Linked DNA regions of Homo sapiens: all the other regions are linked to region 3. Evidence: fine-mapped expression QTL. A gene starts in region 3. Each other region holds a variant in brackets. All regions are shown on one strand. Distances are from middle to middle. Region 1 overlaps RIPOR3 (RIPOR family member 3). Region 2 has its middle 2.6 kb from the start of PTPN1. Region 3 holds the start of RIPOR3 (RIPOR family member 3).

What was found.
Region 1: its variant is fine-mapped to the expression of RIPOR3 in lung (TOPMed, PIP above 0.99).
Region 2: its variant is fine-mapped to the expression of RIPOR3 in monocytes after Pam3CSK4 (Quach 2016, PIP 0.95). The same link has a PIP of 0.9 or more in monocytes after LPS.

The regions. Positions count from the first base shown.
Region 1 is chr20:50,619,669-50,622,428 of GRCh38, forward strand. It overlaps RIPOR3 (RIPOR family member 3), which reads right to left. Exons shown (of 22, transcript NM_001290268.2): 3 at 318-464. It also overlaps the pseudogene RPL36P2. Among named protein-coding and RNA genes, the nearest start is that of MIR1302-5, 6.3 kb to the left of the region's middle. The variant T/G (reference allele first, on the strand shown) is at 1,597.
Region 2 is chr20:50,506,353-50,509,112 of GRCh38, forward strand. No RefSeq gene overlaps it. Among named protein-coding and RNA genes, the nearest start is that of PTPN1, 2.6 kb to the right of the region's middle. The variant G/C (reference allele first, on the strand shown) is at 1,672.
Region 3 is chr20:50,689,821-50,692,580 of GRCh38, forward strand. It overlaps RIPOR3 (RIPOR family member 3), which reads right to left and starts at 1,722. Exons shown (of 22, transcript NM_001290268.2): 1 at 1,306-1,722. The coding sequence starts at 1,308. RefSeq lists an enhancer at 1-2,760.

The DNA of each region.
Region 1 (2,760 bases), 70 kb before region 3:
ATTGCACTCAGCACAGGTGGAAGTTCTATGATTGATTGCATTGCTTCTTGATTGATTGCATTGAATCTGCCCCTCTGCAGTGCGTGCTCCACAAGATCAGAGTCCTCCTGCCTTAGTCACTGCCAGGTTTCCAGTGCCCAAGGACCGGGCTGAGCACGCGGCTGCACCCTGACATACTTGCTTACTAAACGAATGACCAGGAACTTAACCTGTCACCTCTTGTAGACAAGACCCATCCACGCTTCCCCAGGAAGAGACAGAGAGGAGGCGAGGTAGAGGAATGCACTTCTTAAAGGCAGCACACAGCCCAGCCTTACTTGAGGCCTCTTTTCAATGCTTCGAAGATCTTCTTCACCTGCTGGGGCTTCGGGTCTGCACAGACCGACCCCTTCCGCAGCGTGCCGTACATCTTGGAGGATTTTGCAGGCATTCGCGATCTCACGGAGTTCCTGTTGATGGACTTTCTGTGAGAAGGGTTGGAGGGCAAGAGAAGTCAGAGAAGGGCCCTGACAAAGCCCTCCCCAGGGGCAGGCACTTTGGAAATAGTGACCAGAGCCACAGGGAGTCAGGAGACCCGGCTCAGTCCCACCCCCATCACCACCAAGCAGTGTGGTTTCCAGAAAGTTATGGAGCCTCTCTGGGTCTCTGCTTTCTCATCTGTAAAATTAGGATCCTGGGCCAGGTGCGGTGGCTCACACTTGTAATCCCAGCACTTCGGGAAGCTGAGGTGGGTGGATCACCTGAGATCAGGGGTTCAAGACCAGTCTGGCCAACATGGCGAAACCCTGTCTCTACTAAAAATACAAAAATTAGCCGGATGTGGTGGTACGTGCCTGTAATCCCACTTACTCCGGAGGCTGAGGCACAAGAATCGCTTGAACCCGGGAGGTGGAGGTTTCAGTGAGCCGAGATTGCATCACTGCACTCCAACCTGGGTGACAGAGTGAGACTCAGTCTTAAAAATAAATAAATAAATAAATAAATAAATAAATAAATAAATAAATAAATAAAAATAAGGAGCCTAGATTTGAGGATTAAAAGAAGAGTAATAAAGCTTTTCCACCATGGCTGCCACTGGAGAGCAGCAGCCATGGCTCTGCGCTACCCTATGGCCATGGGCCTCAACAAGGGCCACAAGGTGACCAAGAACGTGAGCAAGCCCAGGCACAGCCGCTGCAGTGGGTGTCTGACCAAATACACTGAGTTTGTGCGGGACATGATCCGGGAGGTGTGTGGCTTTGCCCTGTACAAGCAGCATGCTATGGAGTTACTGAAGGTCTCCAAGGACAAACAGGCCCTCAAGTTCATCAAGGAAAGGGTGGGGACACACATCCACGCCAAGAGGAAGCAGGAGGAGCCGAGCCAATGTCCTGGCCGCCATGAGGAAAGCCACTGCCAGGAAAGACTGAGCCCCCTCCCCTGCCCTCTCCCGGAAATATAGAACAGCTTGACAAAAAAAAAAAAAAGAACAGTAATAAAAATCTGGTATCAGAAATGAACTTACAGGAAGAAATACAGTCAAGTAGCCCAAATGCCAATGCTCTCTGATCACCATGCTCTGCCTGTGCAGGCAATGCCGTGTGGGAGGCCAAGTCA[T/G]AGTCCTGTGCTTTACCCTTGGGGCAGCATCTGTTGGCTTTACCTGCCCAGCATCCATCCCCTCCCTCTAGTAGTAGCACCTCAATTTTCCTCTGGGGCACCTCCCCAGCTCTGCTTTTTATACTTGTGGTTTGGGGGAAAGGTAGCCTGACTAATCAACATGCACACACACATTTGCACATGCACACATGCACACGGGATTGTTTGGCAAATCCACATTCCAGGCCTGCGTTAGTCAACATATTCTGCTCCCCTGGGCCAAGAAGTATGGGGATCAAGCCTGGCCAGTAGCCAGCCAGGAGTTCAGAATTCACAGAAGGGAGAAGTGTTTTTTCCCCTGGCATTGCTAACCTGGGGAACATATACCTGGGACTTCCAGCCTCCTCCTTTTGCCACCATGTAGGGAAACTGGGGCCAACACAGAGAGGAACAAACAGAGTCAGACCAAATCTCCATGACAGTGAGTTCCTGGATCTAGCTATGTCTAAAGCTGAACCTGCCCGTGGACTTTGCAGTTACATGAGCCAACTGGCTCTCTTTTTTAGCTTAAGCCAGCTGGAGTTGGGAGTGTGGACTGGATGATCCTAAAAACTGCCTTTCAGTGGTGATGGCTGGGTCCCTCAACATTTAGAGATGTAGCAGCATCTCAAGACTGATTATAGGAGTACGAGGCCAGGGCACCCTCATCACAGCACAGAGCTGGTTTCCCTGGCATCTAAGCCTCTTCTCAGGATCCCATAACTTATCCATGAGGCTGGCTGATGCAGCCTTTGCTCACCAACAGATGTGTTGAATTCTGCTCTTAGCCCTCTAAAGCCATCAGCCAGGCGCCCTGGCACCAGGCATCACTTAATGACAACATTCTCACAAAAGAGACATGGTGGAAATGACTCTTAGATCTAACTTTGGCATCAGTTCTCTTTTTTTTTTTTTTTTTGAGATGGAGTCTCACTGTCACCCAGCCTGGAGTGCAATGGTGCAATCTCGGCTCACTGCAACCTCCACCTCCTGGGTTCAAGCGATTCTCCTGCCTCAGCCTCCCAAGTAGCTGAGATTACAGGCATGCACCACCATACCTGGATAATTTTTGTATTTTTAGTAGAGACAGGGTTTCACCATGTTGTCCAGGCTGGTCTCGAACTCCTGACCTCAAATGATCCACCT
Region 2 (2,760 bases), 180 kb before region 3:
ACAAAACAAAACAGGCTACTCCAGTCACTGGGCAGCACCCCCTGCAGGCGTGAGGGCCACTTGGGCTTGGGATGGGCATTTATTTACTTACTTAGCTTGACATACAGGGACAGGAATGAACCAGCCCTGTTTTTGTTCCAGGATGCTCTCAGGATTGTGAGTTCCAGACAAACCAGAACCCAAAAAGTATAAGGGTTTAAGGGCGGGAGGAGCACAGGAGTCTGGACAGTCACTTAAAGGAACTAAGACTTCAATTAGGTAGCTTCCAAGTGTGGCAGCTCCCACAGTTTTCACTGGAATGGGCATTTTTGTTAATTTTTCCCCTATGGAATGCTCACTTTCTAAAGACACTGCTGATCAAGCTAATTGCATGTATTCAATAACATTTCATTTATCTCCTTTATTTGCTATTATTTAAAGATATGTAGTAATGACAGTTAATATTTATTGAGCCACTCAGTATACTAAGAGCATGATATGTACTCATCCAACCTTCACATCAGCCCTATGAGGTGGGCACTTTTATTATCTCTGTTTTACAAAGGAGAGCAGAGACTAATGAAAATTTGCCCAAGTTTGCACCACTAGTATTTATTCAGCTGGAACCTGGACCCACGAAGCCTGGCTCCAAAGCAGGCTCTGGAAACCAGGCTAGAATGCAGGTTTCCATACCAATGTGCAATGCTACTCTGGACAAGTAATTTTGTCTCTCTGTGCTTCAGTTTCCTCATCCATTTTTTTTTTTTAAGACAGAGTCTTGCTCTGTCACCCAGGCCCGAGTGCAGTGGTGTGATCTTGGCTCACTGCAACCTCTGCCTCCCAGGTTCAAGCAATTCTCCTGTCTCAGCCTCCCGAGTAGCTGGGTCTACAATCACACGCCACCATGGCTGGCTAATTTTTTTGTATTTTTAGTAGAGATGGGGTTTCACCATATTGATCAGGCTGGTGTCGAACTCCTGACCTCAGGCGATCACCCGCCTTAGCCTCCCAAAGTGCTGCGATTACAGGCATGAGTCACCGCACCCGGTCCCCCCCTCATCTAATTTTTTATTTTTATTTTAATTTAATTTATTGTATTTATTTATTTATTTTTTGAGATGGCATCTTTCTCCCGTCGCACAGGCTGGAGTGCAGTGGTTCAATCTCGGCTCACTGCAACCTCCACTTCCCAGGTTCAAGCCATTCTCCTTCCTCAGCCTCCCAATTAGCTGGGATTACAGGTGTGCACCACCACACCCATCTATTTTCTGTGTTTTTAGTAGAGACAGGCTTTCACCATGTTGGCCAGGCTGGTCTTGAACTCCTGACCTTAGGTGATCCACCTGCCTCAGCCTCCCAAAGTGCTAGGATTACAGGTGTGAGCCACCAGGCCTGGCCTATTTTTATTTATTTATTTTTTTTGAGACAGTGTCTCACTCTATCGTCCAGGCTGGAGTGCAGTGACATGATCATGGCTCACTGCAGCCTCAATCTCCCAGGCTCAAGTGATTCTCCCATCTCAGCCTCCTGAGTACCTGGGACTACAGGTGCACGCCACCACAGCCGGCTAATTTTTTTTTTTTTTTTTGAGACAGGATCTTGCTCTGTTGCCCAGGCTGGAGTGCAGTGGTGCAATCTCAGCTCACTGCAGCCTCTGCCTCCCAGGTTGAAGTGATTCTTGTGCCTCAGCCT[G/C]CCGAGTAGCTGGGATTACAGGCATGCACCACCACACCCTGCTAATTTTTGTATTTTTAGTAGAGTTGAGGTTTCACCATGCTTGTCAGGCTGGTCTCGAATTCCTGACCTCAAGTGATGCACCCACCACGGCCTCCCAAAGTGGTGGGATTACAGGCGTGAGCCACCACAGCCAGTCAGTTTTCTCGTTTATAAAATGGGAATAATAGCACCTGTATTGAAGGGTTGTTGTGGAGATTGAATGGGAATGTGTACTTAGAATTCCAGGCATAGTGCCTGCCACAAGCACTCAAGGAATGAGCTGGAGTTCAGCTGATAATACCAGGCAGTGTCTCTGGGCAACACGGAATGAAGACAATTCTCTCTTCCAGGTTTTCAAACCTCCTGGAATTCACAACGTCCACATGACATGCCAGGCCCAGAGGGGGATGGTTTAAACTGGAGCCTGCAGGAAGGCAACCTGACCAACCTGCTCATGGGTGCTTTAAGGATCATAGGTACGAGAATCAGCTGGAGTTGTTGGTGAAAATGCAGATTCCGGGTCTCATCCCTAGACCAAAGATATCTGAATCATTTGGCGATGGGTCCAGGAACCTGCATTATTCAACACACTTCCCAGGTGACCGTAAATGTCAAAAGACAAAATTACAACAAACTTAAACATCTTAATTGGCTTCATTCATGATTCTAGAATCGGGCAAGACTTCATTCCTCAAAATAGCACAAGTGTCCCAATGAGCTGAGCAGAGGAGGTTGGTTTTATAGACAGAAAAGGGCTGAAAAAAGCAGAAACAAAGAACAAAAAGCAGATTGGTCATTTCAAAGTTACTTTCCTTGTAAGGCAGGAACAGGGAAACAGAACAAGAGAGAAATAACTGATTGGTCGCATCGGGTTACTTCAGGTTACTTTTTGTTGTAAGGATTAAAGCAAAGGGAACTTCATTATGTTGATTAAAACGGTCTGCTTGGGAAATCAGGGTGTGTATCTCTCTTCTGATTTTGTGAAAGGTTATCAGTCTGATGATGTAGAACTTTAGCATGAGTGACTCCATTTTGATTTTTAGTCTAGTCTGTTGAGACCCTAATGCC
Region 3 (2,760 bases):
TCCCTGAAAGGAAAGGAGGCCTGGATCAGTACAGAGCTGCTTTGGGATGGAATTTTCCAAGGGAAGAAAAAAGAAAAGGCCACATCTGGGTGCTGGGACCTTTCACTCTGGCCCGATGCCTGGAACCCCAGGGATTCCCCACCTGCTGTGTGTTTCCTGGCCCTTGAGTGTAACCTGCACCCTCCCTTTCCGTGCCAGGGAGACACGAGCTGACTTTATCTGTCTCTTATCTCTTGGCTGCTGCCAGCCACAGCTGCAGGGATATATATGCAAATAGCTTACGATAATATTAATATGTGATTCCCCCCAGGGGAGGCATGTGGAAAGCGCTGTATGCGTTTCACAATTCTGTTTCATCCAAAAACACTGCACGGGCCCAGAGTGATTCGAAACAGATTTTCTGCAAAGGCAAAATAAAATTGGAACAAAACCTAGTTGAGGCATATGCCAGTCTCCCTGCCCCCAGCTCTCTCCACCTCTGACATATTAACCCTCTTCTCTCATGCCCCCAGGAGCCTCCTACGACAAGGCAGCAAATCTAGGAAATTGCACTGGGCACTCTTCGTTCAAGCCTGGAGCCCCTGCCCCATCCCAGGGCAGCCAGCCTCCACCCTGGGCTGACACATCCTTTAGAGAGTAAAAGGCTGCTTGCCAGTGTCAGCCTGTCACTCCTTCTGTCCCACCTCTGCCTCCTTCCTGCAGGTAATGCTCCATCCATACCTCCTTCTCCTTCACCCCTGCTGCTTGGGATAATTGCAGAACCATGGAGCACAGAATACAGAATACTGGGGGTGTACAGGAGAGTTTAGCCAAAGCAAGTCAGAAAAACCTAGGTCTTTTTTCGTTTCTGCCACTGACCGGCTGTGTGACCTCAGCAAGTCACTTCACTTCGCCCAGCTGCTGTTTCCTCAGGGTACAATGAGGACACCAATAATACTTACCCTGCAGGGGGCTTACCGGGATTTCCCGAGCCGACGCTTCAAAAATGCCTACACAGTGCCTGGCGTATAGCAGATACACAAGGAATAGCTGTCATCATGAGAATCTCTTAAAGATCACCTAGTTCAACCACTGTTTTAGAAACGGACAAATGGAGGCCTGCAGAGGGCAAATAACTTGCCTAAGGCCACACAGCACGATACCGCCATCCCATCTCAGCCTCAACCCAGGTTCCCTCCTCCGGCCTTGGGAGCTCCAGGTGGCCTGTGAGGAACGGCTGCCTCCTCCTGTCACCCCCAGCTCCAGAAGTCTGTCCACACAAGGCGGCGTCACGGCACACATGGGGAGCAGTCACTTCACACTCACCATCGAGCAGGTCTGGACACTCGAGTGCAGTCCCGCCGCCCTCCTTGCAGCTGCCTCACTTTCCCTATTGCCGCCAGCAAGCGTCTGCTCCCATCTGGCCCGGGACTCCCGGACTCGAGCTAGGGCTCTGCAAATTCCATCCACACTGGCCACCAGCCGCTGGTCCCGCTCTCTGGGAAGATCGCCTTGAGGACCTGCTGCGCCCCGAGTCTTCCTTCTGGTGCAGGGAGGCCGGTGCCCTGCCGGGCTCTGATAATGCAGCCGGGACTCTTATCTGGCCTGTGTCAGGGTGCAGGCGGCCATGGAGCTGGGGTTCCAGGAAGCCCTCCTGGGGCCCCCCAGCCGGCCCCGCTCCCCCCGGATGCCGCCTGCTGCTCTGGACGCGGCCGATTGCTTGTCAGTGTCACTCCCAGCTCTGCCGGGGGGAATTCCATGCTGGCCCCCAGCAGGCGGGGCCCCCACCCCTTCACGTCCCACCCCCCACTCCCATTTTGGCAAGGGGACTGGGAAAAGGCAGCTAATTTCAAGTCCGCACAGCGTTTGTGGTCGTGTCCTGAATCCTCCACGATTAATCACAGAGCATCTGATTTCTGCTTTGCCTCAGAGAGGGGCGGAGGGGACGCCTGGAAGTTTCTGTTTACTCCATTCTGCACCAGGCTGCGTGCTAATCACAAACAGACTGGGACGCAGCCTACCCCTCCTAAACTGCTCTTGGCCACCCCCTCCCTCCTCCAGCCCTCTCCTTCCTCTTCTTACCTTGTCACTTTCCTCCAGCCCCTTCCTCACTCTTTCTCCTTTCCCTCCTTTCTTTCCCCTTTCCCATCTGTCCGCCTCTTCAGTCCAGATCTGATCCATTGCACACCCCTTCCTTCCGTCCTGGGTTTCCCCCAAGCCCCTTTCCCCCTTTGCGCCTCCCACTTCTCCTAGATTGAGAGTCAGCTTGGTTCTTTCCTTTACATCCATTAGTGAGGGTCAGGCTCTTTTGTTATGTTTTTTTTTCTTTTGTATAACTTAATTATTTCAGGGTTCGGGGTGGGCGCTCGCCCCTTGCCCAGTCACACTGGTGTGTGTGCGACTCCTACAAAGTTAACAGTTTCTCCAGGTCAAGGGGTGGGATCCAGGCTTGGTGATGTGCACAATTTCTTTTGTCCACTTGACACATCTCTGCGTCCTGATTCTGCTCAGGGACGGACCCAAGAACAAAGCAGCCATTTACCGCCTCCGGAGGGGAGGCCAGCCCTGTGGCACATCCAGGGCCTTGGAACACCTAGAGACAGATTTCTCTCCCTCGCCTTGGCTCCTTTCCACTCTGCAGCTAGTGTGGAAAAGAAACCAGAAATAAACAGCACCAAAGAACAGGAACGGACACCCCTCCCCATTAAAGCACACACACAGACTCTGAAGGGTAATTTGGCAAAGACCTCTGAAAACCAGAGATGAGGGTCTCCTACTACT